Regions from separate parts of the Homo sapiens genome. Here all the other regions are reported to be linked to region 4. Evidence: microRNA targets listed by miRTarBase, many of them from high-throughput screens and not tested one by one. Region 4 holds a microRNA gene; each other region holds the end of a gene's coding sequence.
Evidence for each region. Region 4 holds the annotated microRNA hsa-miR-2276-5p (GCCCUCUGUCACCUUGCAGACG, at 3,791-3,812, opposite strand). A microRNA usually pairs through its seed, bases 2 to 8, with sites in the 3' UTR of a target mRNA and lowers its output. Matches are read on the target gene's strand: a 7mer-m8 pairs with bases 2 to 8, a 7mer-A1 pairs with bases 2 to 7 and ends in A, and an 8mer does both.

Region 1 (7,000 bases), not on the chromosome of region 4:
ATTATTTTCATTCCCTTATTTTGACATGTGATTTCTAAATACTTATAATAGTCTTTATCAAAACAGGGTGGTATCATGGACATAAAGATGGAAACAATAGAGACTGAGCACCAGGGACTATGAGAGTGGGAGAGGGTTGAAGAACTACCAGTCGGGGACTGTGCTCACCACCTGGCTGATGGGATCATTTGTACACCGTACCTCAGTGACTTAAATCAAGAATTACCCATGTAACAAATCTGCACGTGTACCCCTGAACCTAAAATAATAAAGTTGAAAGAAAAAACAGGGTGGTGGCATTATTATTAAAGTAAAGCCAAAGAGTTCTCATTAGAATTTTGTATCTTAGTATGCCATTTTCTAGAGGTCACTGGGATTGGCTTATTTTACTTTGTGCTACTTTTGTCAAATAAGTAAAATGGATAGATTTAAAAAACATAAATACTCATAGTTTATTTTCTAAGTAATCTAATCTTCCATATTATATGGCACTTATTTTATAGCATAATGAAATAAATGCTATTAGCATCGGTTTCTGTAAATTGCCAATGGACTGAAGTCAAGGTAAAAATCCCTGATTGTATTGACTCTCTGATATAATAACTTTATAAAAAGTTTTACACAAAGATTTAGTGTTTAGACAAATTCTTGTTGTCTAGAAAAGTTCAGAAAAGAGTAAATAAGGGATTCAGTCACACTTGATAAATAATTTACTATTTATATATTCTCATGTAGATTATTGAAATAGTAGTTTCCATCTCATTTTTATATTATAATGATTATTAGTCTACTTGCCTGTTTATGGTTTTAGGCTCTATTTGAGAGTTTTCAACTCTATGTTTATTATTTTTTTCTTTTGTATGTCACAGATAGGATCACGAGACCATTCAAATCTCTCCATTCCTTCAAGAGCTCCTCTTCCTGCTGACACAACTGGTATTGGGGATTTCTTACCATTGAAAGCTGAACTTGATACTACTTACACTTTCTTAAAGGAGACATTTATAAATACTGTGCCCCATGCTCTGACATCATCTCACTCCTCTCCAGTGACTATGTCTGCTAATGCCAACAGACCAACTCAGATTGGATTATGACTTCATGAAATTAAAAAATGGAGGAAGAGTTAACAGTACAATTAAAATTGTTTTGAATGGGAATTTTCTTATCAGTTGACTTTTGTTTCAGCAGAAGTGGCAGTGGATTTAAAAAATTTGTGCGCTATCTTGATGTATTCTGGTAGCTCTGTCTCCTTGAATAAGGAAATAGCCAACTTTTTTCTCTCCAAGTTTTATTTGTTATCACAGTTGCTCATTTTTATGTAACATATTTTTAAATGTTAAGGAATGACACATTTTGGGTAATTTCCCTCAGACTTAAAAAAATCAATAAGCCATTTTAGTCTCTATCTATCAAAGTTGTTTCATACTTGTCTATTTTAAAGCAGGACTGCAATGCTTTAATAGGATTGAGAGAGCTATTTGAAATGTATGCCAATGATTCCTGTCATTTCATGGCAGCCCGGCCATGGTTCACTGAGCCCCCTCTTCTCTCTTGTCAGCTCAACTGAAGACAAGCATTTAGTTGCAAACTTTAAGCAGGTTGTGCAAAACAGAAATGATGTGACTGCTTCTCCTCCTGCACAATAATGTCACTCCTGGTCAATGTGAGAAGGTCAGGTTGCTCCTTGTAAAGCTACATGATACCACTTGCCCATTTGAACAAGTTAAGTTAACTGCTGAATCTGGTCCCTGAAGGCACTGAAAACTCATTCTTTTAGCAAGTCTGCATTTGATAAGAAAGTAGAGCAATTGTGCTGGAGGATTTCTGTGGTATGTTTAGGCACTTCATAAGGACAGTTCCCACACTAGGATAGCAGGTAATATATTTAGTATAAGCTGAAAAACTTCAAGGTAATGGCTGTTTTGACCTTCAAAATAGACTCCTTTTTTGTTTTTGTTGTTGGTAGGACCCAAGAGTGACACCCATCTTTGATGCTGACAGAATTTAAAACAAGGCCATTGCCCTGCATTTTCTGCCTTGTAGCACACAAAAGTAAAATTGTATGTCAGGCCGAGATGTCGGGGAGCTGACAAGATGCCCCAGTGACATTTCAGCTAGAAAGAGCAAGTGTCTTGCAACCAAGTGGTCAAATATCAAATAATAGGTCAAGCAGGAAGGAGCTGAGTTCTAACCACAAAGAGGTTTCTGGTAACTTACTTGACAAGCTTTTGGGTGCTTTGTGGCTTGACAAAGTGATGTTCTGTTGGGTATCGCTAGACAGACTGTTCTTTATCGCCTTCAGAAGATCAGACATTGACATTGATTAAACTCTTTAACCCTTAAAGGTTAAATCCTTGCAGTTTGCATCATGGTAAGTGAAGAACAAAAGAATATTTGTAGTAAGAATTTGTTTTTGTATTAATCATTTAACTCCCTAGTGCTATTAACTTCTGATGTGAACTATAGCTTTTGACAAAGAGTCTTGATACATAATCTATTTTTTATATTATTTTTCATTATGGAATCTTTCATTATGGATACATTAGAGTATAACAGTATGTATTACAGAAGTTTTTTTGTCTTATCTTTACAGTGACATTTGATTCAAATTACCCAACTGCTGAGAATTTTTTTATTGGCCTTGGTAAATAAGATTTTATACTAACTATTTATTAGTAGCCAAATTAGCCAAGTGATTTATGCCATCTGAGGGAACACAGCAGTATTACTGTCGTACTGTGTAACACATCCTATTCTTGTAATACTGAACCACTATAATTAGCTTTATATAAAACTTTAGAAAGCTTATATGGAGTAAAATTATATCTTTAACCAAATTTCTCTTAATTCTTTCCTTGGAATTATTTTTAATATGACCTGTGTAACATGACCTGTATGAAATTCAACTTGCAAATTTATTATAACATGGAAGTGCTATTTATTGTTTTTATACAGATCATATAATTTCTGCACATTTCAGAACACCTTTCTCTGCTGTTCCAAACAATGATTAGGATATTGTTCATACAGAAATTGATAGACAATTTTTTAGTTCATGTGATATCACTGAGCTTACAATTCTCACTAGAGAAGAACAAGGTTACTATATGTAACCTCTATGTCTAAGTGTTTGTGTGTGTGTATGCTTGTGTTGAATCTGTTTTCAGATCCTACTGATTTTAGAGGAACAAGCAGCTTTGTAAAATGTGCCTTGGAAAGGCCTTGGTCTTCTTGCCTTGATTTTATAATCTGTTAATGGGATAACTCCAAAAATAAATGTGTATGTGTCTCCATATATATGGGTATCTAACTTTACAGGTACATTTTGTACAGTGAATTCTGAACCACAAATTCAAAATTCGTAAATTATGATTAAATCAAATCAAAGCATGTCACATTTATAAGCAACTAGATGCTAAAGGCCATAGAAACTGAAGGATGAACCTCCTGAGCGATCATTAGTATTCACTACCAAATATAGTAATATTTATACCATATGCTTTTTTCCCAGAAGTCAGACCCAGCAGGAGGAGAAGATTTAATGACATATCCTATGGAGATCTGAGAAACTCTAGACTGCTTCTAAGCACCTTAGTGACCAATTGCTGCATATTTGAGATCTCTGTTGTGTCGGCAAGGACAGTTGCTGTATCAGCTTCTTTATCTTTTTAAGAATGATGTATAGAGTAGACATATCTCAGGATAATGACTTCAAATATTTTTGTAGAGGAAAGGAAGTTTTACTTTACACTTCCGAATGTGGATTTTCCTGCTAACTTTCTGTGATCTAGAAACACACCTATATCACCTATCACTATTAATTCTTAAAGTTATTGTTCTGATACCTGAGTCACACTTACATATTGTGGAGTTGCTGACATTTTTAATACATGTATTTTGGAATGACATAATATAAAAACAAAGAGGTTTAGGATTGCAAAAATTGCCAGTTCAGTGATAACTTAATGACATAAATAAATAACCTTTTAAATAGAATGATCACTTTAATTTACCAAATATCTGACTCTTATTAAACTTAGCAACTCTATTTCCTATTTCATATTTATGACATATGCTATTATTGAATGTTTAATGAGATTATTAGTATTTTCATATTACTTCATTTACCAGTTGTCTGAATTCATTCTGTAGACCATACTGAACAATAGGAAGTTGATCCTATTTCACTGTGCACTTATTCTTTTTTTAAGAGATGGGCTCTCACAACGTTGCCCAGGCCGGTCTTGAACTCCTGGGCTCAAGTGATCCTCCCACCTCAGCCTCCTGAGTACCAGGGACTACAGATGCGTACCACTGTGCCCTCACTGTGCACTTTTTATAGACAAGTTTTCTAATATAAAAGGTGGAAGATAATTAATATTTATCAAGCAACTGTTTTATGCCAGTTATTATAGCAAAACTAATGATCTCACAACAAACCTCTAGCATAGGAGTTTCCATCACCATTTTAGACATGAATAACTGAGGATCAAAAATGTTAAGCTTTTGGCTACCAAAGATCATACATAACCTAGGAATTAGTAAGCCTAGAGCTGCAATTCCAAAGTCCACATTATTTTGAAACACTGCTAGTCCTGCCTTCCAGAAATAATTAACACTTTTTAAAGAGAAAAAAAAATTTTTTTTAATTGTCCTGACCAGCTAGGAATAATTTTGATAAGTATGTTTTGGTTTGAAATCTAGATTTCTTATGAATTGATTAGACAAAACAAAATACATACATACTAGCACTATTTATGTAAACAGTAACTGTGAAGTTGGTGTCTATCTTTCAAAGGAAACACCACCCTCACTGTGTTGCCCAGTGTCTCTAGCTTGGCCAAAAGACCACACAGATACTCTCAGAAGCAGAGTCTCTGTTGAGAGGTACTGATGGTGAGTCAGCTTGACCATGCTATTACTTCCCAATGGAAAATAATGACATATGCCAAATAAAGCTGATCAATAAAGCATTCACTTGTGTAACTCCTAGGATAAAGATTTAAAAATATATTTTCTGGACTAGTGTAGTAGGCTGAATAATGGCCGTACGAGATGTTCATAATACTAATCACTGAAACCTGTGAATGTTACCGTCTACGGCAAAGGGACTTTGCAGGGGTGATTAAGTTAAGGATCTTGAGATCAGGAGATTATCCTGGATTAGCTGGGTGTGCTCTAAATGCAATAGGAGGTATCTTTGTAAGAGAGGGAGGTGCAGGGGTTAGTTTGACTATGGAGAGGAAAAGGTGATACGATGATGGAAGCCGAAGTTGAAGTGATGTGCTGTGAAGATGGAGGCAGAGTCCAGACTTAAGGCTTTCAGGGCGGTGCTAGAAGCAGAAAGAGGCAAGGAAATGGATTCTCCTCTCAGAGCCTCCAGGATTGTAAGAGAATACATTTGTGCTGCTTTAAGCCACAAGTTTGTGGTAATTTGTGGCAATATGTCACAGCCACCGAAGGAAACTAATACACCAGTAAACGTTTAGTAATTTTTTTAAAAGATTAATATGTTAATCTTTTAATATTAGCAAACAGAGAAAATGTTCTTTCTTTTAAATTATCCGTAATAATTGCCTTCATAACTTGAATTTTCAAATTCTTTTCGGTTTCCATTTTATATTCATGGCTTCTAAATATAATAAACAGTGATTATATTGGGCCAGCATAGAGTCACACTCTATTGCCATAACTTTTGATAATTCTTCAATTAACCTGTGATTTCAATGTATATTTTAATTCCTACAGTTTTAAAAAGATGCCTTAAATATCTTAAAGATCTACTTTAAATGATTGTTTTTATTTTATTCCATTTTGGTTGGCATATTTTAATAGCTTTCTTACAAAAGAAATTGAATCTTGAATGAATTTATATTAATCACAGCTTAAAATAATGATAGGGAATTTATGAATTATATACTTTAAATTAAATTATATATTTAAATATATTTAAAAGAAAATGCCAGAGCATTTCCTGGTCATTTCTCCCTGCCTTTTGTTATAATTGAAGTGAGATAATTTTAATAATTTTATTCAACAAGGAAATCTTCTAAAATTTTTACAATGTACTATGTGAATCCATTTTGTCTTTACTTTGGTGAAAGCATATAATTTTTCCTGATGGTTTAATTTAGTGAGAGAAAGGAGAGCAATTTTAATTGAAATGACTAAGTGTTAAATGTGATCAAACCTAAAATATTGAAGATTTAAACCTAGAGCGTTAAATATTGCAAGTACAGCCAAGCAAAGAAAAGAAAAATAAAGCCTCTGGTTCTGTAAGAAACCCCTCCATTCCTCCAGTCCTCCTGGTTAAGTGAGACATAAATGTGTAAATTTACATATTAGAAGAGCTCCATCTTTTTTCTTATACCTTAGCAATTTTATTACGAGACACTTTTCTGGCTGTAGAATGTGTTGATTGACATATCCAGATATCAGATGTCCTGTTAGTTCATATTATGGATGCGTACATATTTTTTCTGAACCTCCCCCTGCATAATCTTTTTTAGTTATTGTTTTAAACAAATCAGAATCTAAAGGTCTCCCTAACTGTATCTTGTGGGCAAATTACATTTCCATGGACGTTGCGATGGGAAAATGTGTTCTTACTCTTTGCAGTAGTGATACCTAATTGATACCACATATTCTTAAGTTTAAAATCTCTGGATATAGTATGGGAAGGAGATAAATCAAAACAGAGTTTTGCTCCTTCCTCTAAATCATATTCTGTGTAGGTGTGTTTGATGCTTAGGCATATGTTTTTAAAGCGCTGACCTTAATGTTAGGCAACAGAAGCCCTACAACATATAAAGCTTTGAAAACTACTGGGTTAATGTTATCTGAAGACAGTTTTTTTGTGGTTTAATTGAGTCATGGTTCATTGTCTTTTATTGCATGTTAATGCCAGTGAAATGCTGATTGTTGACAGAGTCCTCCCAGTGAAGCGGCTCCAGAAATGTTGTGCGGCTATAGGAAACTACGTAAAATAGGAAGGCTT
Region 2 (7,163 bases), not on the chromosome of region 4:
TTTTTTAAGGCAATACAGTGCTTCACCCCTTCTTTCAACAGAGCCCATCCACTTATTCATTTGTGCCACAAACCTACCATGCCGGATTTTGTAGTCATTCAAGAGTAGTCAGAAATCTAGACTTCACTGTGAAATCCTCAAGTCTTAAATGTTGGCAACTGATTCCATTTAAAAAGAAAAGTGCAGCCGGGCACAGTGGCTCATGCCTGTAATCCCAGCACTTTGGGAGGCTGAGGTGGGTGGATCACCTGAGGTCAGGAGTTCGAGACTAGCCTGGCCAACATGGTGAAACCCCGTCTCTATACAAAAATCAGCCAGACATGGTGGCTCATGCCTGTACTCCCAGCTACTCGGGAGGCCGAGGCAGGAGAAGCACTTGAACCTGAGAGGCAGAGGTTGCAGTGAGCCAAGATTGTGCCACTACACTCCAGCCTGGGTGACAGAGTGAGAACCTGTCTCAAAAAAATTAAAAAAATTAAAAAAATAAAAGATAAAAGGAAAGCACATACACACACACACACACACACACACACACACACACACACGATAAGGACCAGTGAGGTCTGACAGGAGGTGGGCAGTGTCTAGGTCCCAGGCCTGGAAGCTGCGTGCATCACTTCTGGCCACATCCCAGCGGGCAGAACCCAGTCCCACGGCAATACCAGCTGCAAGGGAGGCTGGGCAGCATCCGGCTTGTGAGCTCAGGAGGAAAACCAACAGGTGTATGAACAGCTAGTCAGTCAGTCACTTCCTCACTTTCTCATTGCTGGTATTGTTGCTGTGGTTTGACTGGCCACATGTCTCCAGTGCTGTCTGGCTTATTACCTCCATGTTTTGTAGGACAAGACCCTGTACCACCCTGTCAGTGGCAGCTGCATGGACTGCAGTGAAAGTGACCATAGGATCTTCATGAACACCTGCAACCCATCCTCTCTCACCCAGCAGTGGCTGTTTGAACACACCAACTCAACAGTCTTGGAAAAATTCAATAGGAACTGAGCCCTCATGTCCCCTTGGCAGGCCCCCCAGGGTCTGGCACTCACTGCAGACTTCCTCTTTCAAGGGAGGCAGGGCCCCTGTGGGCACTAGGTGTAAAAGGTGCTGGCCAAATGGTTCAGGGTGAAGAGGGCTCTTGATTCAGGGGCTGGGGTCTGCCTGGTCCTTGAGCCCCTGAGTTGTGGGGGTAGGGTGAAGAGCATATCCCACAAGAGGCCCCACAGGGAGCAGAGACTGCTTTAATCCCTGCTGACATCACGGAAAAGCAACAGAGCCTTTTCAACTTTGTCACTATGTCCCCTTGAACATTATGTGGGAGAACACCAAGGTAGCCTAGGCCACCCAAAAGTGAGTCCTGCGAGGTTGCCCAGCCCTCAGATGGCTCTCCTACATGATGGTGCTTTAGAAACAAAGGTAAAATTTGCCTGTTTGGGGCAGCTTTTAGTATCGATGCCACTCATCTGCAGCAGAAGAGAAAGAAGTCCTCTTGGGGCTTTTTAGTTTCTGCCGTCCTGGGGGGAACATTGCAGTTACTGCACAGCTTCTGTTCTCTGTCACAACCCCAGGTGATTTGGTCCGGTCAAAGGCCATACTTGGGGCCCTAAGAGTGTTCAGTATTGAATGCTGATCAGCTGCCAGGTGAGGAGTCAGAAGAGGGAGCCCCCCTAGACATTTCTTTGCAGCTATGGACATGCGGGATATCTCCCCCTGCTCTCTGGGTATTTGAAATGTCAATTTTAGCACTCTCCAGGCACAAGGACAGCCCAGCACCAGCTTTACAGGGCAGTGTTTCAGATGGCCCTGAGCCCACGGAAAAGGCCAGGTAGACCTCCAAACTAGAAATGCTGGCTGATTTGCCCTGATCCATGCTTCCATTTCCCTGTCTCTCTTCCCCAGGCAATTACTGGCCTCAAAAGAGGAACAGAGGTGCTGCGAGGTGCTCACCTCACAGAGTCTGGAGGCCTCCAGGATCAACTGTGGGCAAAGTGCCTGCCTCTGACCTCATCATGGTTCTAGTTCTCATACAGAACTCCAGAATTTTTAAAGAACTCTATAATTGGATTGCAAACTAGGATGCTACATAGGATTCTGGTATTCCACATCCAATATGGATTTCTAGAATGCTGTGATTAAAGGAGCCAGCCAGGTGTAATACAGTCAAGGCAGCCCCCAGCCTAGAGACAATCTGTGAAATCCAAAGTTGGTGGTGTTGGGAAAGCAGGGGGACATGTGTCCCTCAGCTCAGCAGAGGCTGTGGTACAACATGGTCCTTGGTGAAGACCTGCACCCCTGGAACCTCCCACCATCATCACAACTGTAGTCTCATTTGCAGTGGAGAAAAGAACCCGACGTCCCACAGCCAGATATACACCCAGCTCCATGCCAGCCCTTCATGTTTACCTTTTGCTTTGTTAATTACATGTCAGACTCCTAGAGGGCCTCCAGACTAATAGGAAGCATTTCTGTAACCAACCTGCCACCCACTGATTCAGAAATGGAAATCACATTCCACAATCTATGGCTTCCACCAGCTAGCCCAGGAAATACTTGAAATCAGCATTCCAATTAGTGTTGAGTCTCTTGATTGTGTCATTTACCAATTAAATAACTGAGACCTAAGTCTGGGAACAGAGCCACGAATCTGCCTTTGAGATGCTGGCAGATCTCAAGGCCATCAATTATTGGGGGAGGGAGGGACAAACACTCCCAATCATCCACCAGTCAGACTGAATGTGTAGCTGGCGAGGAATTACTTCCACTTCTGGCCCAGCACAAGCCCTGCTTTGGCCACCTGTCTGCAAGAGAGGCGGCCCCTGTGCTTGCAACGCTTACGTGTTGATCCCAGTGTCCTTTTCCAAATGAGTGCTGTAGCTTTAGAAGTGGCCCTCTATAGAAAGAAGTCAAAAGATGAGGCCCCTTCTAGAATCTAGGATAACAAGAGTGTTGACAGTTTGAGGAGTCGAATTGAGATTCATCATCAAAGAGCAATGCAGCGTCGTTAAAATAAAAACTGTGCCTTTTAAAAAGAAAAATGCAAATATAGAGCAAATCCCTAAACTTGAACCATTTCCTAGTGCCTTGCTAGACAAACATAAAGGGGCAGGGTTGTGGGGAGGGGAACGTTTTTGGTGGTGTGTGCAGTTCCTACTGGATGAGTGTGTGTTTCTTAATGTCTCATTTCAAGCAGGAGATGTTGGGTCTGGAGCAAGATCTGAGACTGAGATGTCCCCCAAGGGTGACAGGTCAGATTTATTTCAGTCAGTGCAAGTCACACTCCAAACTAAAGGCTGGGCAGTGCGTTTAGTCTGTGGCCTAGAAGACCTCATCAGCCCCCGAGAGGAGGCCTTGCATTACCTCACTGGGACCTGTTTGGGGGCCATCCCTGCGGTCCACCCTCTGAACCCCCAGCATGTTTGTCCTGTTTCTCACCATTGGGTTAAGGGGTGCCGAGCACTAGCTAGACTTCCACATAGTCCCACCCCAAGTGGGCGGCAGTGTTCCTGGCATGACCAGGATTCCTGTGAAAGCAGGAGCAGCAGCAAGCCGTCCCGGGCCTGCCTTTCCCATCCTTTGGTTCTCCTTTCCAGTCTGGGTTCACACCCTGAAAAGGGATGGGTGTGTCCTCTGAGCACTCTGGCATTTGTCATTGCTGAGCCCATATCAGTAGGTCCTGGGACTTGACAAAGTATGTGGGAGGGGAAGGAAGGACAGAACTTGACTGGCTCCATTTCATGGACCAACTGATCAATTGCCAGTACTAAGCCACTCATTGTTATGGCTTCCTTTTTGAAAACCACCTGTCTCAAGGATTCAGGTTTCTGCTCACATCCCCAGCTGATGCTCAATAAAACTCAGCCAGGAGCATATGGAGATGCTGACAGCCAGGTAATGGGTGAGACTGTGGGGTCCCTTTTCCTCTAAAGCCTTTACTCTGAGGATAAGGTCACAAAGTAGGGTGTGACTTGAAAGTATCGTGACCATGTGGCCCACCAGCAGCCTTTCCAAAGGGGAACTCCAGAGACATTTCATAATGCAAACAGCACTGTTGCTTTAAGAACAAGGCCTTTGGAGGTGGCTAAACTTGCACGCACGTGTGTGAAAAGCCATCCCATCTTCTGCCTCCAGTTGGAGCTTTCAGCTGTTAAAACAGTCAGAAACTATTGATTCTTCCCTTTAGGAAAAAATGCTCAGGCAGAACGGGGTACATCCACAGGAGGAATCGGACGAGAGGATGTGACATTCGGTCCAGGAGAGAAAGAGCAGTTTCTGTTAAAGATGTAACAAATGGATTTCCAAAGTCTACATGACATTCACTTTTCAAACTTCCCACCAGTTGAATTTCTTTTTTTCCTTAAGAAACAGGTGATGTCTTGGAAAACAGCTCCTTATGTCTCTCTGTGCATCTCCATTTTCCTAGTCTCTGGAGTCTCAAAAAGAGTGGCAAAGCACTTTACAGTAGTAACTGAGGAATCAGAGTCTCTGCTTCAGCGATATCTAGTTTGTACAGTTGGGTGATCTTTTGTAATTCCTAGGAGGTAATGCATTTTTAATGTTTTCTGAAGCTTTGTAAGTGTGAGAGAGGGACAAGAAGTGCAGTTCTGTTCTGGAATTCCTTATTGCTTTCAACGGACACTCTTTGTGAAAAATCCAAGTAATATTTTAGTTCAAACTTGATCTTGAGCCAAGGCCCACTGCCACCTCTGGGATGGGAGTCGGACCTACATACCAAGTGACAAGTTCACCTTAACATCTGCTTCCAGAATGGCTTTGATTCAGCCGTGCCAGGCAACAGAACAGGGTCAGACTCCTGCTCTGTTATTGGCTTGAAGACTAGGATCCCAAAGGGGTTGGAGGCAGGGAATATTTGAAAATTCAGACTGGAATTCCAGGCCAAAAGCTCAAGACCACCAGCCTCTCCTCCTGCCTGGAAAAATAAGCCTTTGTGAAAGACTGATTTACCATGTACAATTGTGATTGTGAACGTTGTTGAGTAAACCTCCAGACTTTCTCTAAAGTGGTCTCTGCCTTCTTCCTTCTCATGTGTCATTCTTCTTTTCATCATTCTTCACGTAGACCACCTACTTCGGACTCAGGCATTCTGCTGGGTACTAAAAACTCCCAACAGCCATCATTCTAGAGTGAAAGGCAGACCTAAAACAACTAAGATGATTTCAGATGCAAATAGGGCTATGAAGGGTATAAAGCAATGATATATTAGAGACTGGAGTGGGGGTCAACGTTAGCTAGAATGGTGAGAGCTGAAAGACATGAAGGAGGGTGAACCAAGATGATTTCCCGGAACAGAGTTCCAGGCAGAGGGAACAGCTAGTGCAAAGGCCCTGAGGTAAGTAGAAGTTTCTGTGTTGGAGGAGCAGAAGGAGGTTAGCTTGAAGAGTTACGTGGGGCAGCCCACAAAGGGTCACACCCAGGAGCGGAGGATCTCAGGAGGGCAGTGACAATATGAAATAAGCATAACTTTTTTTTTTGATGGGGTCTCCCTCTGTCACCCAGGCTGGAGTGCAGTGGCACTCATAGTTTACTGCAGCCTTCAACTTGTGGGCTCAAGTGATCCTCCCACTTCAGCCTCCCTAGTAGCTGGTACCACAGACACACACCACCATGCCCATCTAATTTTTTTTATTTTTTGTAGAGATGGAGTCTTGCTATGTTACCCAGATTGTTCTTGACCTCCTGGCCTCAAACAGTCCTCCTGCCTCAGCCTCCCAAAGTGCTGAAATTACAGGCATGAGCCACCACACCCAGCTGTAACTCATTTCTGATGCTTACCCAACAGGCATGAGTACTTGCTTACCAAAACATTTTCATGCTATCAGGTATTAGATATGGTAGGAAGAGCACTGTCTGGCCCAGCTCTACAAAAAAACTCAGTGAGATCTTGTGCAAATGCTGCTTCCAACTAGGCCTGTTTTCCACAGTAAAATGACAAGTTTTTGGATGATGCTTCCAGCTCCACCTGTGGTCCTATGATTGAGTCTTGGTTGGGGGCTACGGGTGACAATGAACAGAAGCTGGAAGCTGCCCCCTCATGCTGTCACTCAGGGACCACCAGAGGGTGCTATGGACCATGGCTTGACAAAGGCTGAATAACACAAAGGGGAAATTCTGACCCAAGATGACATGGTGGTGACTGACACAGTCCATCCAGGTTTTCAGTATGCCCATGCTCATGTTATCCTCACACAATAACACCTTACAGCTTTGTAGACATGGGGAGAGATTCAATTTTTAAAGCCTTTTATACCTGTTGTACCCCCCAGACTCTCAGAAGAATTCCATGAAACAGATAAGAGAAAAATATTAGCTATCATTCAGTAAAAATGCATCAAATGCCTACTATATACCAGGCACTGTGCTAGAAATTAAAAGACTGTGCAAGGCACTTATGATCTAGTTAGAAAAATAGACATTAAACAAATGATCATTAAAATAAATGTATAGTTAGGGACTGTGGTAAGCTCTGCAAAGGAGAAGTACACGTGAGAGTATAAGAACTTGACCTTAGCAAGAAGGTCATGGAGCATGCTGAGTCGGCTAAGATCTTGTCATGATATAGCCCACTCCTGGAGTAACAGAAGAGAATTTAATGAAGGAACTATTGCAGAAGTATGGGTGGGATTAAGGAAACAACAAAGGATGGTGAAGCACCTAAGGACTAGCAGAAATGGGAAGCTGTTACTACTTGTAAGCCTGAAAAGGCAAGAAGCAGTAGTGTTACTATAATGCAGAGAAGGCTGTAGCCAGGAACAGGGGCTTCCCAATGGGATCTGCAGCTGCAGGTAGTAAATTGCAGCTACTGCCAAAACAAGAGGAGATGGGAGGAATACATATCCTGTCCTTCCTCCTTTTCTACCTTCCAGTCATCTGCCACTCACTGCCTCCCATTGGGTAAACCCAGTAATTCAAATTCACATAAAGAAATAAAAAGCACTGGTCAAAATAACTATATAGGTAAATATAGAAGACAGTATAGATAGGGTTTTTTTTAAAACTTATTTTTTCTCCTAGCTGATTTAAAAGCAAACTGCATAATTAAATAATCATAAATCTATTGATGGGCACACAATGTGTAAGGATGTAATTTATATGTCAATAACTAACGAGAAAGGGGAGGAAGAAAGGGACAGAGCTATATAAGAGCAAAGTTG
Region 3 (7,133 bases), not on the chromosome of region 4:
AAATTATTTTACCCCAAAATATTTTTTGACATATTTTGAAGTGGCCCTGCAAAGCTGTCTCTTAATTTTCATACTGGAGGAATCTCCCTTCTCTTAATGGGTCTTTTCCAGAGAGTCTGACGTCTGTTAAGTTCCAATAAGATATATGTGCTCTCTATTCTCTCTGAAGCCTGCTATCTGGAAGCTTCGTGTACATGACAAGGACAGTGTCTTCCACAACCCCACTCCCCTTATCTTAACTCAAGCATTTCTTTTTACTGACTTCAACTCCTCAGGCAAAGCTTAACTCTTTCAACCAATTGCCAATCGGAAAACTTTTGAATCAACTATGACCTGGAAGCCTCCCACTTTGACATGTCCCACCTCTCTAGGCTGAACCAATGTATACCTTACATGTATTGCTTTATGTCTTCGCCTATAATTTCTGTCTCCTTAAAATGCATTAATATCAAACCCAGCTGTAACTCAACCACCTTGGTCACATGTTCTCAGGAACTCCTGATGCTGTATCACAGGTCATGGTCTTTAATCTTGGCAATATAAACCTCTGAATGGATTTAGACCTGTCTCAGATACTTTTTGGTTTACATCTCATCCAAATTTAGTCACATGACCACACTTAGCTGCAAGGGAGGCTAGAAAGTGTTGTCTTTAGCTAGGGGCAGAAATGTGTTGGGTTAAAATTTGGGGATTTTATTACTGATGGTGGAAGGGAAGAATGGATCTACAGGACCATAGAAATCTCTGTCATAATGGCTTATTTGTGTAGTTGTTTTAAATTCCCAGTCTGATAATTCCAACATGGTAGTATCCGAGTCTGGTTACAATGCTTGCTTTGCCTCTTTAATCTGTGTTTTTTTGCCATTTAGCATGCCTTGTAATTTTTTGTTGAAAGCTGGACCTGATATACAGCATAAAAGGAACCAAGGTAAATAGGCCTTTAGTGTGAGCCTTTATGTTTACCTGGTTAGGAGTTAGGCTGTGTTTGCTATTTGCTGTAGCTGTAGATGTCAGAGGCTAAAATTCCCTCTAGTGTCTTTGTTTTTGTCTCCCCTCTCATCTTTGGGCTTCCCTAGAGACTGCTTCTTAAAGAGGGACTGAAATGTGCAGTTGTTTCCACTGTAGTCCCCTGTGAGCGCACAACAGCCCCACTGATGTGGTGGTAAGGTGCAGGGGGAGGGGAACCATTCCATAGTCTTATGATTAGGTTCAGCCTTCAGCAAGCCTGTACCCCTGGGCTGTGACCTTCACAAGTGCTTTTCATTCGCCTCCTCCCTTAGATGAGACAAGAAGGGCAGAGAGGCTAGAGCTGGTTATTTCCCTTCTTTCAGGTTGGTTAGACACTGGTAAAATTTAGGTTGGTTAGACTATGGTAAAATTTAAGATAGTGAGGAAAATACTGTTTCTTGAGGGCAGGCCTTGTTGGACAAGTACTGAATGCTCTGGCATATTTCAGAATGGTACCTGTCAGGCCTCTGAGCCCAAGTTAAGCCATCATATCCCCTGTGACCTGCACGTATACATCCAGATGGCCTGAAGCAACTGAAGATCCACAAAAGAAGTGAAAATAGCCTTAACTGATGACATTCCACCATTGTGATTTGTTCCTGCCCCACCCTAACTGATACGATATGTTCTCCCCTGACCTTAAGAAGGTACTTTGTAATATTCTCCCCACCCTTGTGAATGTACTTTGTATGCCTATCCCAAATCTATAAGAACTAATGATAATCCCACCACCCTTTGCTGAATCCTTTTTCGGACTCAGCCCGCCCGCACCTAGGTGAAATAAACAGCCTTGTTGCTCACACAAAGCCTGTTGGTGGACTCTCTTCACACGGATGCGTGTGACAGTACCTTTTCTCTTTCCCCCGTCAAAAGCACAAGGAAGTTTTTCTCCCATCTTCACTGTGAAGACCTCATTGAGTTCCTGGAGGGAAAGGTCATGAAAGTGGGGACCCCCTGTGACTGGGTTGCTCCCCTGAAATTTTTATCTCTCAGAAGTGTCCACACTGAGCCTCCAGCAATTTGTCAGTTCCAGTTTAGGTTTTCCTGCCCCTCTGCTGGTTCCAGTAGCAGGGTTTGTTCCTGGGTTTCTGGTCCAGGAGGTTATGATTTCCCTGTATCAGCCTGTCTGCCTCTCCAATATTGGGGACAGTGAGCTACCCTGTAATCTTACTTACTTCTACAGACCTAAGAAGAGTTATTGACTTTCAGTTTGTTCAGATTTTCAACCCACAGCAAATTAATTGATTATGCACGTTGGGAGCCAGCCAACACAACCCCTCCATGAAAATCACTGGCAGGAATTCATCATTTAGCTGAAGGAATACCAGCGAGTAAAAACTGAAACCAACTCACGATAGTTCTGGTGATGCATCAGGAACAGCAGCCTTCCTGGGAGCTATGCAAATTTTACGTTCTCGATAGAATACCAAAGTGGAGTCTTCCATAAACTTTAGTAATATGCTAATTTTGGTTTTTGAAAACAAAAATTCAGGGTCCCCTGATAACTCACTTAGTAGAATACTAAAGTCACCATAAAGACTTCAGGAGGATCCTTCTGGGCTGATGACCCTTCTTTGAGCATCAAGAATAAGATAAGCAATATTTAAATATTTTGGCCTCAGGATCTCCTTTTTAAAAAGTTGAGGCGAAATTCACATAACACACAATTAACCATGATAAAGTATACAATCCAGTGGCTGTTCGTGTATTCAACATGTTGTGCAACTACCTCCTCCCTCTAGTTTCAAAACTTTTTTACCACCCCAGAAAAATCCCCTGGCAAACACTTATCTGCTTTCTGTCTCCATGGAATTGCCTATTCTAGATATTTCATGTTAAATGAGTCATACAGTAGTGATCTTTTGTGTCTGGCTTCCTTCACTCAGCATAATGTTTTTGAGGTTCATCTAAATGGCAGCATGGATCAATACTTCATCCCTTCCTGTGGCTAATACTCCACTGGCAGGGATATGCCATGATTTGCTTATCAATTCTTTTTTTTTTTTTTTTTTGGAGAGAAGAGTCCCTCTGTCGCCCAGGCTGGAGTGCAGTGGCACCATCTTGGCTCACTGCAACCTCTGCCTCCCAGGTTCAAGGGATTCTCGTGCCTCAGCCTCCCACGCAGCTGGGATTATAGATGCGCGCCACTATGACCAGCTAATTTTTTGTATTTTTAGTAGAGACAGTGGAGATGAGGTTTCACCATGTTGGCCAGGCTGGTCTCCAACTCCTGGCCTCAAATGATCTGCCCACCTTGGCATCCCAAAGTGCTGGGATTACAGGCATGAGCCACCATGCCCGGCCTTTATCCATCCCTTTGTTGTTGGGTATTTGGGTGTTTCTACCTCTTGGTGAGTATGAATAATGCTGTTATAAAGAGTCGTGTACAAGTTTGTATTTAGACACGTTTTTGTCTTTCTTGGGTGTGTACCTAGGAATACAATTGCTGGGTTATAGGACAAATTTATGTTTAGCTTTTTGAGGAACTGCCAAAACAGACTCTGTTTTGCACAGTGGCTGCACATTTTGACATTCCTACCAGCCATCTGTGAGCATTCCTATTCTTTTTCTTAAAGTCATCTTAATGGGTATGAAGTAGTATCTCATTGTGGTTTTGATTCGCATTTCTGAAATGACCAGTGATGTTGATGTGCTTGTTGGCCATTTCACAGGATCTTTGCATGTTATTTAAAACTATTAAAAACTATAGAGGATACCAGGCTGGGTGCCGTGGCTCACGCCTGTAATCCCACCACTTTGGGAGGCTGAGTTGGGTGGATCACTTGAGGTGAGGAGTTCGAGACCAGCCTGGCCAACATGGTGAAACCCCGTCTCTGCTAAAAATACAAAAATTAGCTGGACTTGGTGGTGGGTGCCTGTAGTCCCAGCTACTTGGGAGGCTGAGGCAAGAGAATCACTTGAACCCAGCAGGCAGAAGCTGCAGTGAGCCGAGATTGTGCACTGCACTCCAGCCTGGGCAACGGAGCAACACTCCATCTCAAAAAAAAAAAAAACAAAAAAACAAAAAAAAAGCACCAAAAAACTATAAAGGTTTTTGGTTATGTAGATTATAGCTAGCAATATTTATCATATTTATAATAAAAACCAAGACTTTTTAAAAAATATCATTTATTCTTTTATAAACAATAGCAATAAATTTATTATATGTTAACAGCAGAGTGATGACATCATCACGTATCACATAGCTTCTGGAAAATTCCACCATACACTTTTGAGAGAAGGACAGATAAATGGTCGATAACATCTTAGTATTATCATGGAAAAGTTTTGATCTTATAGACCCCTCAACACCCAAAAGTCGTAATCAGTTCTACTCAAGTAAGATTTAAATATATATCTATATTTTCTGGTCTGAGATTCTTTTCAACTTTACTCAGAAAACATATACCTGAAGGGGGAGGGGGAGAGTGCACAGATGAGTCTGTTTGTATGTGGTTGGTCACAGAAATGACAGAAAATAGTTATTTAATCTGAATCTGGACCCTGCTGAAAACTGCCGTGATTTCTCATAACACTCTCCTGCCCCTTCAGAAGTGAAAACTGGCTGATAGTTTCCCAAATGAATAATTTTCGTTAATGTTAATCGTGTGATGTTGTTGAGCTAGAATGTTGACTCAACTGATTCGTGAGGGGAGATCTTGCACCAGATATGGAACCAGGACTTCCACCGAAATCTTAGCTCTGGAAGTTGATTTTTTTCGTGGGAGTTGAGAGTGGGTGGGCGTGCAGAGCAATAACACAATGGTTCTCAAAGTGTGTTCCTGGAATAGTAGCAGCAGCAACAGCACCTGGGAATTGTTAGACACACAAAACATTTGGCTCTATTCCAGACCAACAACTCAGAGACTCTGAAGATGGGCCCAGCGAACTCTTTTAACAAGGCCTCCCGGTGATTCTAATATGCTGAACTTTTTGATAATGTTCAAGGACTGCTGGTATGCTCATCTTGTCTTTTTTTCCTTAAAGACAGGATCTTGCTCTGTTGCCCAGGCTGGAGTGCAGTGGTGCCATCATGACTGACTGCAGCCTCGAACTCCTGGGCTCAAGCAATCCTCCTGCCTCAGCCTCCTGAGTGGCTAGGACTACAGGCGTATGCCACCACATCCAGCCAATTTCTAATTTTTTGTAGGGATGTGTCTTGCTATGCTGCCCAGGCTGGTCTCAAACTCCTGGCCTCAAGAGATGCTCCCGCCTTGGTCTCCTAGGGAGCTGGGGTTATAGGCCTGAGCCACCGTGCCAGGCCTGATGCGCTCTTTTCCGTGGTTACGTTCTACCAGTGTGACCTCCATCCCTTCTCCCTCTTCACTTCCTTCTTTCTTTCCTTCCTTGCATAAACATTGAATGTACGGATCCCTTTTTGGTGTTTTTAGACACTTCTCAGGAAACGTACGCATTGATTTGCACCTTGTGTGTCCACCTGTAAACATCAAATTAGTGCAGGCCAAATTCAGGGTATCATTCATAGCAATCCCAAAGAAACTAACTCTTAAAGAGGCCAATTAGTAACGCACAGGTAAAACTTTGCTAAGTATGATTCTCTGCCTGGGACCTCATTCATCCTTCTGTTCCTGACATTGCCTCATGGGTTTGGCTGCCCCGTTTTGAAGTTACCCAAAGATTATTCTGCCATGGCCTCTGTTTTTTAGAAATTCAAGACTGAAGGCTCAGTAGAAGGGGGTTAGCTTAGAGGATTGAGCCAAGGGTAAAATGATTTCTGGGTAGCAGCCCAGAGTTCTTGAAGGATGTTTATTAGGCAACGTGAACGGGAGAATCAGCAGTCAGAAGCGGCTGAGAAAGGAACCACGCAGACAATGTCCAGTTGTATAGGGTAGAGTGTGTGTGTTGTGTATTTACGTTAGTGCTGGGGCTTTCCTTGGGACTCCTGAACTGGGAAGTTGGAATGAGATGAATGTAAACCTACTTTTCTTTATACTACATATAGGGTGGAGAGAGTTCCATACCATTCATGCTTTAATGAACACATATACATGAAAATAAGATGGAGAGTTCTAGTGGTTTTGCCCTTCCTCTTCAACGGCGAAATTGCTATTTAGAAGTGGGTAGCGCTCGCTCTCTGATGGGACTGAGCTGGCATAGAGACAAGGTTGCCACTGCCCCGTGTCCTGTGATGTGACTTCAGAGCTTCCAAAACGCAGGCAAGCACAACGGATGTCTCCTGGGCGACCATTTAGCACCTTTGATTTCACTTGGGCTTCATGACTTCTGTTGTCTGTTCCCGGCTTCTTACCAAGAAATTCTTGTTCTTTTGGTTTTCTAGATTGTTCTTCTACTCTTCCTCCTGTAGTGGTGTAACAAAGTCACGGTCATATGTGTAACACGGCACCAAAAAAATGTGGTCCTCACTCTAAACCAGTGCACACGCCACCATGCCTGGCTAATTTTTGTATTTTTAGTAGAGATGGGGTTTTGCTATGTTGGCCAGGCTGGTCTCGAACTCCTGACCTTGTGATCTGCCTGCCTCGGCCTTCCAAAGTGCTGGGATTACAGGTGTGAGCCACTGTGCCTGGCCTAAGTTTTTATATGGCAGACAATAGCTGTGGAACAGGAATAATAAACAGCAACTAACTGTGCTAAATGATGTGCATGCAGTAAAGCACTTGGTTTCTAGCCAGCACTGTGCTATAGAACTTTCTGAGATGATGGAAATCTTTTGCAGTTGTGCTGTCCGATAACACAGACACCTGTGGCTAGGGAACGCTTGAAATGTGGCTAGTGCAACCGAGGAACTGAATTTTTAATTGTATTTAATTTATTTGAGTTTAAATACACTTAAGTATCCACAGGTGGCTAGTGGCTACTGTATTGGACAATACGGTCTTAGCCTTTTCCCAGTTCTTATTTGGCTCATGGGAATTTCTAATTACTCCCTACTTTGCACAGAGTTCCCATAGCACAAGACTCCAAGCAGAGGTGTGCTGGTGATGTTTAACAAGCAGCTCTCTGATGACGGTTGCCTGTCTTCCCTGGTGTCAATCCTCCCTCCACACACAGCTTCCAGCTGGCAATGTGACATCACTGATCACGCGGTTGGGAAGAGATGCGCGGTAGCCACCGTCAAACGGTATTTCCACCATGCGGACACA
Region 4 (7,163 bases):
CTTCATGAAAATGGGACTGTCTCTGATCAATCTCTCCATCTTCAGCATCTAGTACACAAAAGATACACAGTAAGTATTACATATACATTTATGCTTACAAACCAGCATGAAGTATCATCGGTATTACACTTGTGATAGCAGAATCTGCAAATCCACATAAATCCCTAAATAGGCCATTCCTGATGAATGAGAAAGACTTTTATACGTTACAGAAGAGCACTCCACCCCCCAGGAAGGGTGGAAGTGGAGCACATTTCTGAACCAGAGGCTATTTTTCTTTTAGCTATAGAGTCACAACACACAACCCGGATGTGTTTAAAAGTACATGTGCAAGTTGTTTAGGACTCAGGGCACATTTACCAATCTCTACATCACCCATGGTGACTAAGAGCTAGGGCCTGACCTAAGAATCCTGTGTAATGAGACTGAATTGTCGCATTAACACTCAAGTACAATGGACTGTTCCTATCACACAGAGCAACATTTTCTGCAAAAGATGTGATCAACGTTCTGATCAGCAATACCACAACACATCTCATTGCCAGCCTCCTGCCCCCATTGGAATAAGACAATAAAAGCCTGCCCTCCCCGTGCATCTGTCCCAGACAGTGAGTAAAGATGTCCCCTTTCCTGCTGCTAAAGTTGGAGTTGGGGTGGGTGGGGGGTGCAACCGGGAAGGGCTGAGAGAGGAGAAGAGGGCAGGAGACTGGGTGGCCCAGGAACCCAGGAAGGCAGCTTGCCTCCCTCCATTGAAACTCTCCAGTCTGGCCATTTCGGACCTGTGCTCTACTTCTCTCTAAGGAGAGCTTGCCAGTGTTAAGAAACAAAGCCTGCTCTGGTATGAATGGGGGTGGAGGGGAAAGGCTGGCCCTTCCCCTCTCCTGGATTGGACAGGTAGAGTCCTCTTGGAGGGTGCAGATGGATGCTGGTGGGTCTTCAGGGCAGACCTGGCATGCTGGGGTGGGAGACAGTCTGAGGCAGGCACAGAATCCCTCAAGTGACAATGTCTGCGCTCTCGTGATTCCACAAAGACTAGGGCAGTCCCGCTTCAGGGAAATGGGTGGAAGTGATTGCTCACCAAGAAGTCAGGTCCTTTAAGGTCCTGGTTCACTGAAGCAACAGCCCCATTTCCGAGATGCTGGAACATGATGACCACAGGACAGCCATTACCTGTGTCCACCGAAGCTGACATCCTGACCACAGCACATGGCCACAACCACATACATATACAGGAAACACAGACGCCATTCTCCTTGCATTCTGCGGTGTTGCCACAGCTCCCCAGGGTTCTTGCAGGCACAGAGGGCATCGTCCACAACCCCGAAGTTAGCGCGACGGCTGGACTGGGAACTCCTCTGAGCCCTCAGGCTCTTGTCCCCTGGTCCCCTGGTCTCTCCTCTCCAGCTTCACCTTCAGCTCAGCACACAGGAGCTATCGATGTTGTGAAAGGTTCTGTGGTGCCGTTTCTGCCTCAGGGAGTTACAGGTTAGAGGGAAGACAGACACACCGAGGGATGCAGGTGGATCTCCTAAGCCAGGCAGCCCGGGGTCCAGTCTCAGTCTTGCCACTTACTATGGGGCTCTGGCCACGACAGCTTCCCTGAACCTCCATCTCATTTAGGGAGCAATGAAACTTGACTTGCTCCTCAGTTATAACCATCCTCACCTAAACCACAGAACACAGAGGATACCTCACGCAAATGCTTCCTCCCTTCTCCCCAGGATGGTACCTGATCACCCATCTCATCCTAGGAGGGAGTGATGAAGCCATCACATAGGATGCCTGCCTCAGGGCATCAGGGTTTCATTCTGTCAAGACAGGCTGGTATGGAGGAGGTGAGCATCACAATTCAACAATACCCTGCAGGTTCCCTGGGGAGCCAAAAGAGGCATTAAACATGGAGGGAGCAGAGGCAGGAGCAAGGGGGCTCAGTGGGAGTCCAGAGAAGGATGTGGGTACAGCAGAGGCCAACAGAAAAACAGCAACCTACTCTATGCTCCCCCTTTACTGCTCTTTCATTTGTGATGCAAAGATGAGGAAAATCAGGTAAGCACTTTGTACCAATGCATTTCTCTCCACAAATGTAAAATACAATTAAACATTCCAGGTACTGATTTTCAAATTGCCATGTATTATATAGTTTCCCTCAAGAAAACCATGTACATTTGGTGTTCATTCCTGGTGTTTTAGAAATAACAATGATAGTTCTTTCTAAAACATTTGAATTTATACCACTGTGATGTTATGATCCCATTTATGCTATTACATGTCTCATAGGCAAACATTTCTTAAATGTTTAGTTTTCAGACAAAAAAGAAAGGAAAGCACTGATGAGTTCCCCTTCTAAGTGAAACCTTCCAATGCCTCTTAGCTCAAGGGAAAGGAAGGGGAAAGAAACTTTGTTGCTTCCAGCAGCAAACAGAGAGGTCAACCTACCAAGCTATAGGGCCAGGCATTGAGCCCTGAACCAGAGAAGCCTTAGAGCCAACTTTGTCCTGCTGCTTTCCCTTGAATATGCCATTTTATTTCCCTGGACCACGGTTTCCTCATCTGTAGAATATAAAGTCCCTTTCAGCTATCAAGGTGCATGCTCTGCTTCAGTATCTGTAAAGTAGAAATACTACTTGCCTCCAACTCTTAGGAAGATAAAGACTAAAAAAGAAATGTTTGGACAAGGCTTTAAGATTACATAATGAAATGGATATAAATAAGACTCATACAGTCACACAGCTAACAGAGACCATAAAGATCTGTCCAGCTAAAGTGAAACGGAACTCTCAATGCACGGGAGGAGACAGCTGGCAGTAGTCTTCTTTTTTAATTTAACTTAATTTTTTTAGAGACAGAGTCTCTCGTTCTGTCACCCAGGCTGCAGTGTAGTGGCAAAATCATAGCTCACTGCAGTCTCAACCTCCCAGGCTCAAGAGATCCTCTCACCTCAGCCTCCTGAGCACCTTGGACTACAGGTGAGTGCGCCATCACAACCAGCTGATTTCTTATTTTTATTTTTTAGAGATGGGGTCTTGCTATGCTGCCTAAGCTGGTCTTGAACTCCTGGGCTCAAGCAATCCTCCTACCTCGGCCTCCCAAAGTGCTGGGATTACAGGCATGAGCCACTGTGCCCAGCCAGGTCATTTTTATGCCACTTTCTTCAGGGCTTCCTGTGGCTAAGAGGGAAAGTAGACTGATAGCATGGATGAGGTGACAGCCCAGGCACTGGCCCCAGGCTTTCTGAGGGACAGCCGGCATTAGGTTTTTCTCCATGCACTGTCCTACAGGTATAGAATTCATGTCCTCCACTGGTGTACATTGCAGACTAAATAAAACATGTCATATAACAACCTCCTTTCCAAAGCTAAACTCCAGGCATGCCTGAGTTCAAGAGGTCACCCAGCAGGGAAGCTCCACTGTCTGGTGAGAAGAGGGCCTCCACTGCTAGGCAGTGGCAAGAAGCCATGCCGGTTACCTCCTCTGAGCCTTCCTTTTCTCATCTGTCAAATGGGGACAGTAGTAGATCCTACATTATAGGGATGTGTGGAGGATTTTAAATGAGTACTGATGCACGTTAAGCCCTCAGAACAGTGCTTGGCACACACCCAGAGTTTGGTAGATGCTACCTAACATCAATATTGACATTAATTCTAGAACTATGTAGAGGATACGACTTCAATAAGAAAACAATCAGTCAGAAGCAGTGGCAGAAGGGAGGGTCCTGAAATCCAGAGTCCTCCTGCAGAGATGCAGCTGCCACTCCTCGCCTCTGACACTTGCAGACATTCGGAGAGAAAGCCGTCTGCAAGGTGACAGAGGGCGGACTGGAAGAACACAAGGAACCCAGGGATGCTGATGGAGCATGGAAAACCGCAGCAGAAGGCACTGAGGCAAGGTGTGCCCTCCAGGCGGGGCAGGCTGTGGCTGGGCAGAGCGCCTGCCAGGGAGAAGTAGGGCAAAGGGAAGAAAGCACCTGTGGGAGAAACATGGGGAAACAAGGAAGAAACCTGCATATGCACGGGAGCACAAATAAGGAAGGAGATGGGAGAACTGGGTGGAGGCAGATGGCAAACGTGGGGGCCAAGGGAGGTAGATGAGAATTAGGATATGGGATAATAAGACAAAGCCACATGAAACTCTAAAGTGCGGGAGGAGGGCAGAGAACAGGGAGGGTGCATGACAGGCACCCCGAGAATAATGCAGTGAGGAAGTTTGCAAGACGGGGGAGGGGGACATTAGGAAAAAAGGAGAATTTGTTGGGAAAGGTGGAAAAAGAAAAGGAGTGAGATTTCTCCGCCTGTTAGCAAGGGGAATAAAGGAGAGCAAATCGCTGGGTGACCAGGAAAGGTTCACAGAGAAGAAAACACGAGGCAGCAAAAACCGAAGGTGGGGACAGAGAAAATGCTGGCAGGGGGAGGTGCATAATATAAGGCTATGGGAAGCCATGGGAACAAGAGCTGAATAAATTCACAGTATTATTCTATTTATCCACATCCCTATGCAATGCTGGGAAGCAAATGACCCACAGGGTTTTGTTTGCTTGCTTTGGTTTGGTTTTCCTGCACTTGGAGGGAGGGGAAATTTGCTCAAGCTCTGTAACCTTGCAGTCAGATGGGTGGCCCAGCCCAAGTCACCCGAGCTCCCCCTGACGCTGGCAGCAGCGCGGGCTTCTACCTGCCTGGGGCTGGAGTACCAATTCCCCCACCTCCTGCACAGAATGGGACCAAACCAACTCCGCCAATGCATTCCCTGCAGTCCACAGACGATGGGCACCGGGTCCCAAAATCTTTCCCCTGGGACGAGACTCCGCTGGTACCAAGAGAAACTTGCTTTCTAAACTAAGCTCTCCAACCGCATCGCTCCGGGTCCCCGGAGGCACCAGCCACGCCACCCGATGGAGCAGAGCGTTACAGGGCTCCGCCGCGCCAGGCTCCCCAGACTCTGCCACCCCCACGGCCGCCCCTGTAGGCCAGGCCCCGCGAGCTGGGAGCGCGGGTGAAGTTACAAGGCGACCTCCCTGCAGGCTTCCGGCTGGAAACGGCCTTTTGCGAGAACACCACGTGCATGTCCTCCCAAAAGCGATGGTGCCGGGTGGCCCAGAGGGCGCAGAGCCACCGCCGGGCAGGGAGCGGGCGCACGGACCTAACAGGTGAGCACCCGGTAGCCTCCACCGGCGGGGGAAGCAGAGGCCAAGCAGCTGGGAGCTGGACATCCCGAAGCCCCGAGGCAGTCCACTGGGACTCAAATCCTCCCGATATTCTACCTAACAGCCCATGCCCGCGCCCGCCCGGCAGAGCCGCGCGCCCGAAGCCGTCTTACCTCCTGCGGCGCCTCTTGGCGGAGCCTACAAAGTCAGCGTGTCCAACACGTCCCTGCCCTCAGAGCCACCTCCGGTGCCGGCGGAGCCCCGAGGTCGCCGCACTCTCGGAGGAGCCTGGGATCCAGTGCGCGCCCTCGGAGCTAGCGACCGGCAGGGCGATCGCGGGAGAAAGCGCAACGCACACTCTCCTCCCGCGCCGCGGCAGCACACTCAGCCAAGCCACGCCCCAGCCCCGCTCCCCACCAGGCCACGCCCCCAGCCCGGCTCTTCCCCCCGCCCCATATCAGGCCACGCCCCCGGTTAGCTCACTCCCTCAGGCCACACCCTCGGCCACGCCCCCACACTACCAACCACAGCCGGGGACCCCACCCATCAAAAACAGTTCCCCGGCCAGGCGCAGTGGCTCTTGCCTGTAATCCTAGCACTTTTGGAGGCCGAGGTGGGCGGATCACCTGAGGTCAGGAATTTGAGAGCAGCTTGGCCAACATGGTGAAACCCCGTCTCTAATAAAAATAAAAATTAACCGGGCGTGGTGACAGGCGCCTGTGATCCCAGCTACTCAGGAGGCTAAGGCAGGAGAATCACTTGAACCCGAGAGGCGGAGGTTGCAGTGTGCCGAGATCGCGCCACTGCACTCCAACCTGGAGGACACAGCCAGACTCCGTTTTTTAAAAAAAGAAACAAACAAAAATAGTTCCCTCAGCCACCAGCCAGCCCCCACCCCCCAGGGCGGGAAGAGGAGTCTCATCTCCGGGGCAACCGTGCCCCACTGCCCACTGCCTGGGCCAGAAGTTCACTCCCTGTGAAAGGAAAACGCAGGGTAGGGATTTTTAAACCTACATGTTTCCCAGGGCCTGGGGCAAGTCTTGAGTAGACTGTTGCAGTAAACCGACTCAAAGGCCTATCACCTTTCTTGTGAGGCTCAAGGCCTAATCATTAATTGACATGAAAACCACAGAAGAGAAGCAAACCCTTCTGTGCTGGGATCTGTGCCCCAGTGCTCCATGTTCCCTGATAGGCAGCTAATGGAATTCATAAAATAAATGCATGCTTTCTACCAGTGTAGTTTTTTAGATGATTCATTTAGTGGCCAGCACTATTATTTATAAATGTCTATTGTCTTTTATAATCAAAGAACAATACCCACAATCTGTAAAATAAAAAACAAAAATTATATTACCCAATGAAAAGTGAAAATTAATTTTATGTATGTTTTTTAAAATATTGAAAAAACTCTGTATGACATTATAATGGTGGCTTCATGTCATTATGCATTTCTCAAAACTCACAGAATGAACAGCATGCGGCGTGAGCCTCCTGTAAGTAATGGACTTAGTTCATCTTAATGTAACAACATGGGCCCATCAATCATAACACATGTGCCACTCGAATGTAAGATGTCAGTACAAGCAGCTGTGTGTGGAGGGAGGGGCGTGAGGGAGTACATCAGAACTCCGTGTACTTTCCATTCCTGTTTTCTAAACCTAAAACTGCTCTAAAAATAGTCTATTAATTAAAGCACACTCCAAGATTAATGATAATTATCTGTGGGTGGTGGAAATATGGGCAAATTTTATTTAATTCTTTGAATTGTTATTGAAATTACCCCAAGTTTTAACAATGACCATGTATTTTTAAAGCTGAAAAAATATAAAAACCAAACCTTGGAAAATTTTAGAAACATAGTATGTGAGGCTAATATCATTGACTGTTCCATTTTATTTCTACTCTATAAAAAATCTGCACAAAGCACTCACAAATGCTAAAATGAAATCTATGTTAGTATTATTTAAAAAAAAATATCACGGTCTAAATTGAGGGTTTTTTTATTATCTCTTTAGAATTAGCACAA

Region 1: the mRNA of CCDC171 is a reported target of hsa-miR-2276-5p. The part of its 3' UTR that is shown has no 7-base or 8-base seed match.
Region 2: miRTarBase lists GALNT10 as a target of hsa-miR-2276-5p. Seed matches in the 3' UTR shown: 7mer-A1 at 1,649-1,655 and 7mer-A1 at 4,575-4,581.
Region 3: miRTarBase lists IL2RA as a target of hsa-miR-2276-5p. Seed matches in the 3' UTR shown: 7mer-A1 at 5,325-5,331.

What each region holds. Positions count from the first base shown.
Region 1 is chr9:15,970,740-15,977,739 of GRCh38, forward strand. It overlaps CCDC171 (coiled-coil domain containing 171), which reads left to right. Exons shown (of 26, transcript NM_173550.4): 26 at 870-3,298. The coding sequence ends at 1,097. Among named protein-coding and RNA genes, the nearest start is that of LINC03041, 300 kb to the right of the region's middle.
Region 2 is chr5:154,415,974-154,423,136 of GRCh38, forward strand. GALNT10 (polypeptide N-acetylgalactosaminyltransferase 10) reads left to right here. Exons shown (of 12, transcript NM_198321.4): 12 at 841-5,011. The coding sequence ends at 999. All of the region lies in intron 2 of SAP30L-AS1 (SAP30L and GALNT10 antisense RNA 1), which reads right to left. Among named protein-coding and RNA genes, the nearest start is that of SAP30L-AS1, 26 kb to the right of the region's middle.
Region 3 is chr10:6,006,569-6,013,701 of GRCh38, forward strand. It overlaps IL2RA (interleukin 2 receptor subunit alpha), which reads right to left. Exons shown (of 8, transcript NM_000417.3): 8 at 4,121-6,328. The coding sequence ends at 6,304. Among named protein-coding and RNA genes, the nearest start is that of IL2RA-AS1, 25 kb to the right of the region's middle.
Region 4 is chr13:24,159,080-24,166,242 of GRCh38, reverse strand. MIR2276 (microRNA 2276) reads right to left here and starts at 3,827; the gene lies at 3,739-3,827. It overlaps SPATA13 (spermatogenesis associated 13), which reads right to left and starts at 5,523. Exons shown (of 13, transcript NM_001166271.3): 1 at 5,311-5,523. RefSeq lists a silencer at 5,573-5,632.